2 separate regions of the Homo sapiens genome follow, and region 2 is reported to be linked to region 1. The links are microRNA targets in miRTarBase. Many come from high-throughput screens and were not tested one by one. Region 1 holds a microRNA gene; the other region holds the end of a gene's coding sequence.

Region 1 (4,000 bases):
CCTGCCTTCTCAGAAGAGGCAGATAACACTGAAGACAATTCGGGGGTAAGTGCTGGGGCGGGGGGGGGGGGGAATGAGATTTCTGGCTTCCTGTTGCCTCCCCACCGCCATCCCTGGACTGGACGATAAACTACCTGTGAGAGGCTGTCTCCAAATATGGCTGCCAACAATTCCTCCCCCTACTAAACACGAAGCCACTCCTCCCAGTAAGGGGGCGTCTAGATTCAAGTTTGGACCACAGGTTGGCCCAAGAAACATGGACAACAACAGGGTGCAGGGGCGGGCACTGAACTCTGAGTGTCACCTGATTCAGTGGGTCAGGACATGTTGAGTGGGACGCTGGATAACCCACCATTAAATTTTCCATGCTGAACAGCTGAGCAAGAAATGGGACTTCTCTTCAAGGATAAAACAAAAAAATCAAGCCCAGTATATTTTCCTTTTCCTTGAACCTGATGAGGAAGCCTGGGATGAATCTGAGCTGGTGTTGTGACTGGCTTTGACCACCACAGAAGGCTGCAGGGGTGACACTTTGTGACATTAGAGCCCAGCCCTTAAGAAGCCTTGCAGTTTCCATTTCACCATCTTGGGAGCTAATTGCCATGGATAGAGGCGCAGTCTAGACTAGCAAAGGATGGGAGATAGCGAGGAGCGTAGGGGGACCAGCCTTCCAGCCTTCTCTATGAGGGCCTCAAAGATGTATGTGAAGCCACGATGGAATTTCCAGCCCAACCTAGCTGAGTGCAGCCTCCTGAGTGATCCCAACTGACAACCCGGGGAACAGAATAAGCACCCAGCTGAGCCCAGCCAATCCACTGAATCAGGACAACTAAGAAATCATTATTGTTTTAAGCCAGTAGGTTTTGTGGTGGCTTGCTAAAGATAAGTGATATGCTTTTCAGGAGTGGAGTCCTGTACTTTTTGTAGCTCTCCCTTCCCTTGCCTGAACCCCTGAACCCTGGCAATGGGCACTGAATCCTGGAGCTGGAAGAGGCCTCCAAAATCACTGAGTCTCACCCCTGTCATTTTATAGAAGAGAGAGCTGAGGCTCGGGAAGCCATGCAATTGACTCCAGGTCACACAGGGTAACAGGGGCAGATCCAGGAGGCAAACTCAAGCCCTTACAGGGGTTGAGCACCAAGGGTACGTCTCCACCGACTTGCAACACACCAAGACAAATGTATGTTGCAAGTCAGTAGAGAGGTACCCCTGGTGCTCACACATTCTGTCTTAAGAGGCAGTCACTCCAGCCAACTGTGGCCATGTGGGAATGTGGGCCCTGTGAAACCAGATTGTCTGACTTTTCAGAAACGCCAGAAACAGGACTTTTCTGTAAAATCTCTTGATTTTCAAATGTTGGCTAAGAATTTGAACTGGATAGATGAGCTATTAAGATTGGCCCTGGGCTTCAAGCTTGGTCCCGCTGCTGGCTTTGGGCGAGTCATATTATCTCCCAGACCTCAGTTTCCTCATCTCTAAAGTGGGCCCCGTGGCTCCTGCCCCTTTCAGGATGGCTGTGAAGGCCTGATGAGCTATTGTATTTGGAAGTACAAGCTGCAAATGGCCCTGTGACTGTTTCGTAGTCTCCATTCTCTGTGGAGGCGCCCCTTACAACATAATGAGTTAACACCCGATTTGTCTAAGTTAGAACAACATTATTCTGACCATTATCACAGAGATTGCATTTTTATGGCAGGTTTGTGAGTTGTAGAACCCTCCCATTGCATTATCTCAGGATGTTGATGGAGCTGGAAGCTGGACAGCTGCCTTAGAGACCCTCATCAGAGCCAAGCCTTTCCTCTGAGCAGGGAGGCACATTCTAGAAGTGGAGAAGAGCATGAGCTCTGGAGTCACCAGACTTGGGTTTCAATCGCTGCCTCACCACTCCCTAGGTGTCCTTGGGCCAGTCACTCCTCTCAGAGCTTTGGTTTTCTCATCTGTAAAATGGGCACAATAATACAACGACCTGTGGGGCTCTTGGGGCAACTGCACAAGGCAACACACATAATGCTGTTAGTACAATGTCTGGCACAAGAATTGACAGCTGCTGGGCGCGGTGGCTCACACCTGTAATCCCAGCACTTTGGGAGGCCGAGGCAGGTGGATCGCCTGAGGTCAGAGTTCGAGACCAGCCTGACCAACATAGTGAAACCCCATCTCTACTAAAATATACAAAAAATTAGCCGGGCATGGTGGCAGGCATCTGTAATCCCAGCTACTCAGGGAGGCTGAGGCAGGAAAATCTCTTGAACCCGGGAGGCAGAGGTTGCAGTGAGCCGAGATTGCACCACTGCAGTCCAGCCTGGGCAACAAGAGCAATACTCTGTCTCAAAAAAAAAAAAAAAAAAAAAAAGAATTGACAGCCATTCCCATGATCATGGCAGGGAAGGTGGTGCCTGGCAGGCACTGGGCAAAGAAGGAGGGTACAGCCATGAAGGAGTCTACCCCTTTCCCAGATTAGGGAGGCTGAATTGGAGTGGGGAGGGGGCCTTTGAGAAAACCTGGATGGTACCCTGAGTGGGCAGGCTGGAGGGGCCTCTCAGCTACTTGGCAAGCCAGTCAGACCCTTGCCCTGTAAGGCTCAGAACACAGTGGGTGGGGGAGAGCTGGAGATGAAAAACCTGGTACACTGGCCCCCTGTTCCCCTACTGTGAATTGAGCTTCCCATTGGTAGAAAGCAAGGATAGCAACCGTTCACATTTATTGCAAGCTTAGCACACCTGAGGCACACACTCAGCTTAGTCTTCCTCAGATTAACACATCCATTGCTCACAACCATCTCAAGAGCTAGGAACAATGATTACCCCCATTTGAAAGATGAGGAAACCAAGGCTCAGAGAGGTGAAAACACAAGCCAGAGGACACACAGTACGGAGCAGTCTGACTCCACACACATTTCCTGTAACCCCCAGGCTCTGCTGTTTATAGAACAGGAGAGAAAGTGATCAGGGCTAAGCAAAGCCTCTGTAGGACTTCAGAGAAAGGGACAAGTCATTCTGGCCAGGGGCACGAGGGTGCTGCTGACATTTAATGGTTACGGAAACTAATAAAGAATGGACACAGCTGAGTGCCAGGCAGTTCTGCCAGTCATGGTACACAGCATCTCACTGAATCCTCGCCATGAGCCTCTGACACATGCGCGGTATTCTCCAGTTTCCAGATGAGGAAGCTGAGGCTCAGAGAGTGGATCACTTGGTCAAGGCCACACAGCAGGCAAGGTCCCCTCTTCTGAGGACACTCCCACCCCACAGGGGCTGCAGCAGGGGGGCAGATGGCTCCAGGAAGCTCACCTAGTGAGGGTGTCCTAGGCAAGCCCCCAGATGACACGGGGGTACTGGGGAGACAGGTGTCCCCCTCCTGCACCCTCCGGAAGGCAGCTGCTTTAAAAGGCCCTAAAATGCTTTCAAGGCAGCCTTATCAGAAGGCCTGAGCTGATCCCAATCAGGGAGCCTCCAGGTGCTGCCACAATCAACAACTGCCTGGCCTGCTGCCCCACCCCTGGGAGCTGTGCAAACATTCTTTCCTTCCCTGCCTTCCCCCAGCTAACCCTCTTTTTATGCACGAGCCAGCGGCAGCCAGGGCTGGTGGGCGCTAACTCTGATTGATTTCACTTCATTTCAGTCTTTTCCAGTTTCCTGCTGAGGTTTCTCTTCCTCTTTCCCAGGAGTCCTGTGTTTTATCATAGGCCGCTGGGGGGCAAATTTGCCTGCCTAATGGAAAGACCTGGAGAGTATGTTAAAAATACAGACTCCCCAACCTTGTTCCCCATCTCCCAGATCTCCAGCTAAGTCAGGCATGCAGGTGCCAGGTCAGGAGACGGGTCCTTGGTCGGAGGTGTGGAAGATCCTCCCGTCAGGAGGCCCACCGTGCTCTGCATCTCCGCCACCCTCAGTGGGAGCATGGGTCCCCTGCCTTGCCCAGCCCAGGCATCCTGTCACCAGCAGGCTCCATCTGCCCCTTCCTGTTAGGGGCCTTTCTATGTGCAGAGGTCCAGTCTCCA
Region 2 (4,535 bases), not on the chromosome of region 1:
ACAGTTTCACTTGGTTTCACCAATTTCAATTGGTTTTAAATCATTAGGATGTCTAAGTAAACTATTGATTTCTTCCACAGGTCTAGTACATTAGGTTCCTCTGCTTTACCTTGCCATCTTTAATGTTTGTATTCTTTTAAAATTAGCTGGTCCTTTATAAGTATGTAAATATTGTAGCTAGCAATGTGCTGTTTATTAACAATACCTGTTTCCACTACTTTTTTAGGGTCCTGGTTGCTGCTCTGATCTTGCAGTTTCTTTTCACTATGTTGATTCTACAACCATGTATGAGTTAGAATACCTCGTTTATCATCTTCGTCCATATGGTTATTTATACAGATATCAACCTACCTTACCTGAACGTATACTAAAGGAAATTAGTCAAGCAAACAAAAATGAAGATACAAAAGTGAAGTTAGGAAATCCTTGAAAGAAAATCATGAATGAACAAAGGTAATATGTCTAGCACTGCACTGAAAAAGGACTTCTGCATTTCTGACATAGAACACTGGAATCCCAGTGAGGAATTCTAAGTGAACATTCCTTATAGAAACCTTTCACATGAATGACTATAAACTGAAGCTTTAAATGAGCTGTGAAGTGTGTTAAAATGTGTTTTGATACAGTAATATATAAATATGTCTATATATATGAGGAACTTGTGTTTTTTAAATGGTGGCCAGGTAGAGGAACTAGAAAAGAGATTTTGTTGCCTGTTTTCTGACCATCTGTGTTATTGTCACTGAGAAACTAAAATAGTAAATTTACTAAAACTACACTGCACCATGTTAGTAATAAACAGATCTGCCTTAAAGAAAAGAAAATTTTAGAAAGAAATATTGTTGCTCAGTGTTGTTAATATAGCTCAAGAATTGAGTTTATATTTGCAGTATGCTATAAATGATACCCCCCTACCACACCCACACACACAGTTTTTGTCTAATGAAAATGTTGCTGTGATTATTTATAATTGGTAGTATTTCTTCCAGAAGAAGCTAAAATAAGACTGGCACTTACCCTGAAGTGCATTAATAAAACCACACTTTAAAATTATCATGGGCCTTGACTATATTATATACTTGATTCTAATTAGTCATCTTTTACGCAATCTCTGTTGTCTCTTTTCTAAATGTGTTTAGCCACTCTTGAATACCATTCTCCACTATTAACATTAATTTACTCAAACCGTTCATAGCATTCTGTAAACATGTATTTTACATATTTGTTCCCAAATTTGCCCATTGTTCATTATGGGTAACTAATAATAAATTTAATGCTGTTTCAGGATGCTTTTCTTATAACAGTGCCACTCTCAGGAATTACTAAGTGACATTTTAAATTGATATTTTAAACTCTTTCCAACTACATAGTTATGGTTTATTTCATTCTCATCCTGTTGGGATGAGAACTTGTTTGTGCCTTTCATAACTTGTTTAAAGCAGAGTTTTAAAATTAGTTTATAGGATCTGAGGTGGCTATTAGTTACAGTGGCAAGATTATTTAGAAAGCAAGATTTTGATGAGAATTAAAAACAATAGAAAATGTAGAGTGCTTAAACAAAAATGTTATATTTTGAAAGAGTAGATACTTAATTTATAAATAACAGTCTGAAGGTTGGTGCTATTTTGGGATAATTGTTTTGCTAATGGATAATTCTAACAATGCAGAATACCTAGTCAAGACTGTCATCAAAAACATTCACAAATGTTTCATTCTATTTTTAGTGACTCTGTTTAAAGAGTTTCTGAAAGGAAAGAAATTTTTTATTTTTATTATCTTTAGCAGTACTGAGTGTCATAGCAGAATATTTTACAGACTTTCTATGAGATTATTTTTATGGTACAAAGTATTTACATTTCCCTCATGTTTATCATTATGCCAATTTTACATGGCAGTCATGCCACTGACTCTGCTATTTAGCTAAGTAATTTCTTTTTTCGGAGACTGTCTCACTCTGTCTCCCAGGCTGGACTGCAGTGGTGCGATTCTCCTGCCTCAGCCTCCCGAGTAGCGGGGATTACAGGCACGCGCTGCCACGCCCCGCCAGTTTTCATATTTTTAGTAGAGACAGGGTTTTGCCGTGTTGGCCAGGCTGGTCTTGAACTCCTGACCTCAGGTGATCCACCCACCTTGGCATCCCAAAGTGCTGGGATTACGAGCGTGAGTCACAGCACCCGGCTAAGTAATTTCTATTTATTGTGCCAAAACATGTCAAAATCATGACCTCTTTGAATGGTATATTTGAGAGGATGTTCATTTCATTGGTTAACCATGGACTACTCTGTCCACGTAGTGAAAACATGCACCAGTTTTTACCTATTATCATGGTAGTATCATCTGCCAAAATTTCAAGGCATTCATTTTATTCTTTGAACAACTCTTCACCATGGTGTGGACATGAATTTTCATATGTGTTACTTGACTAGAAGTATAAATGGTTTACTATAGATATCCAAAAACCTTGAGATTTGCTCATAGGAAATGAATATTGTGATGAATCCTGGGCTCTAGAGTCAGACTTGCTTGGGTTTAAATTCTTGCTCTAACACTTACTGTTTTTGTAACCTTGAGCAATTTTAATCTCTCTGTGTCTCAATTTCCTCATCTTTTAATTAGGGATGATAATACTACCTACCTCACAGGATTTTTATGAGGATTAAATAAATGTAAGGTTTTTAGAACATTGATAGGGAGCAATAAATAGAAGATTGTATTATTATTCTGTTACCTTGGAGTGTAAGTACTGCATTTAAGTGAATGAAAAATTTGCTTTGACCAGATACTGAAGGAAATAAGTAATAGCTAGTATTTATCCAATGCCAACTGTATGCTAGGTACTGTGCTTAGATAATCTGTGTATAATAGTGTTAATCCTCAAAATTTGGGTGTTATACCCCTATTATAGATAAGGAAACTGAGGCTCAGAGACAAAGTAACTTTGTCACTGTCACAAAGCTAGTAAGTAACAGAGGTAGGATTTATATTCAAAACCCTGTGTGTTCATTGGAACCGTATCAGGCTTGGGGCTATTCATGTAGCATTATTTCCATTTTTATGTATATGATATATGACGTCTGATGCATTGGCCAGTAATAGTCAAATTAACCCAGCCAAATTGTCACAGTGATTCTTAAACTGTGGTTCTCACACTTGCCCAGGATGTTGTTAAATGCAGATCTGAAGACCCCAATCTCAGAAATTCAAATTTAAGCATGGGGCCCAAGAGTATGCATTCTTACCAGATACCTTGGGCAGTGACTGTCAAAAGTCTGGTCCCAACAAACAGCATTAACGTCACCTGGGAACTTGTTGGAAATGCAGCCTCTCTCGGGGCCTCATCTCAGATCAGATCTACTAAATCAGATACTCTAGGGGCAGGGGCAGGGGCAGGGGCTAGCAGTTGTGTTTAAGCAAACTCTGCAGGTGTCTTTCTTATCCTAGTTTGAGAACCAATACCCAACAACCTACGTGATTTTGGTGCAAGTAGTGTTTGAAACACACTGAAGATTACTGCCCAATTACTAAGACATTTTTCAAAAAGCATGTTTTAAATCAGTGTAGTCCAGGATCACACTATATTAAATATAAAGATAACTTAAAGGATCATTGGATCATTCATTTTGGCCAAATTTTTAGCTTCTCCAAAGTGACTAACATCAGGGCCTACAATAAAATCTGTAATTCTCCAAGTTTAGTAATTTTATATTGAGGCAGGAAGGGCTCATTAAGTACTAATAAGTACATAATTTATTAAAAACATACATAAGTGTCATCAAAAAGGTCCACAATTGTTAGTAAAAAAAATTAAATTGAAGTAGTAAATGCTGTTTTATAACATACATTTTTCTGCTAATTCATTCTGTTTTGTGTGACCTAATAAAGCAAAAGAAAAATAAAAAAGCAATTCTCCAAGTACTTCATAGAGCACATAAAACCAGATTTCATGATGATGATGTATTCACTATCTTTTAGATTAAGATCTTTGTTATTTGGTAAATGATTTCAGTATGGTTTTAAAACATAAGGCTTTTGATGTCTTATGTTCTCTAATAATGGTATGCTTGTATTTTCTAGTGGGAAGTTCATAGATAAAGCAGATTTTTGTCCCAGTTTGCTTTCAAATATAAATTTCAGAGGGCTTTTTCTTACTGTAATGAGGTATGAAAATAAATCATTGATCAGCTCTTAATATTTTTTGAATACAGAATTGGATTTGAGCAGTAAATTTGCTAACTGGTTATTTTCACAATTTTCTTGAATATTAATTTTTCACTTCTTTGAGACTGTCAAACTATAGTTACTACCAGGTTGATGCACTGTACTTGAAAGAATCCCTTGATTAAATTACATCTAGCATTTTATTTGCCATTTCAATTTTCAGTTCATTAGACTATAATTCTTTGACAGTTTCTGCCTGGTGTTTATTGCCCTTCTTTGTTTGCTTTATTACTAACTTCCATTTTCTAGTTACTCTTAAATGCTGCCTTCACAAGGTTAATTTGGCTGTTAATAGTGATTAGAATTTTTATCACTTA

The links. The annotated mature microRNA hsa-miR-4684-5p reads CUCUCUACUGACUUGCAACAUA and lies in region 1 at 1,182-1,203, opposite strand. An mRNA with a match to its seed (bases 2 to 7 or 8) in the 3' UTR can be bound and repressed. Matches are read on the target gene's strand: a 7mer-m8 pairs with bases 2 to 8, a 7mer-A1 pairs with bases 2 to 7 and ends in A, and an 8mer does both.
Region 2: the mRNA of C1GALT1 is a reported target of hsa-miR-4684-5p. Seed matches in the 3' UTR shown: 7mer-m8 at 2,062-2,068.

What each region holds. Positions count from the first base shown.
Region 1 is chr1:22,716,733-22,720,732 of GRCh38, reverse strand. MIR4684 (microRNA 4684) reads right to left here and starts at 1,216; the gene lies at 1,135-1,216. The region is part of intron 1 of EPHB2 (EPH receptor B2); the gene reads right to left. RefSeq lists an enhancer at 2,880-3,569.
Region 2 is chr7:7,243,298-7,247,832 of GRCh38, forward strand. It overlaps C1GALT1 (core 1 synthase, glycoprotein-N-acetylgalactosamine 3-beta-galactosyltransferase 1), which reads left to right. Exons shown (of 4, transcript NM_020156.5): 4 at 227-4,535. The coding sequence ends at 430. Among named protein-coding and RNA genes, the nearest start is that of LINC03016, 9.6 kb to the right of the region's middle.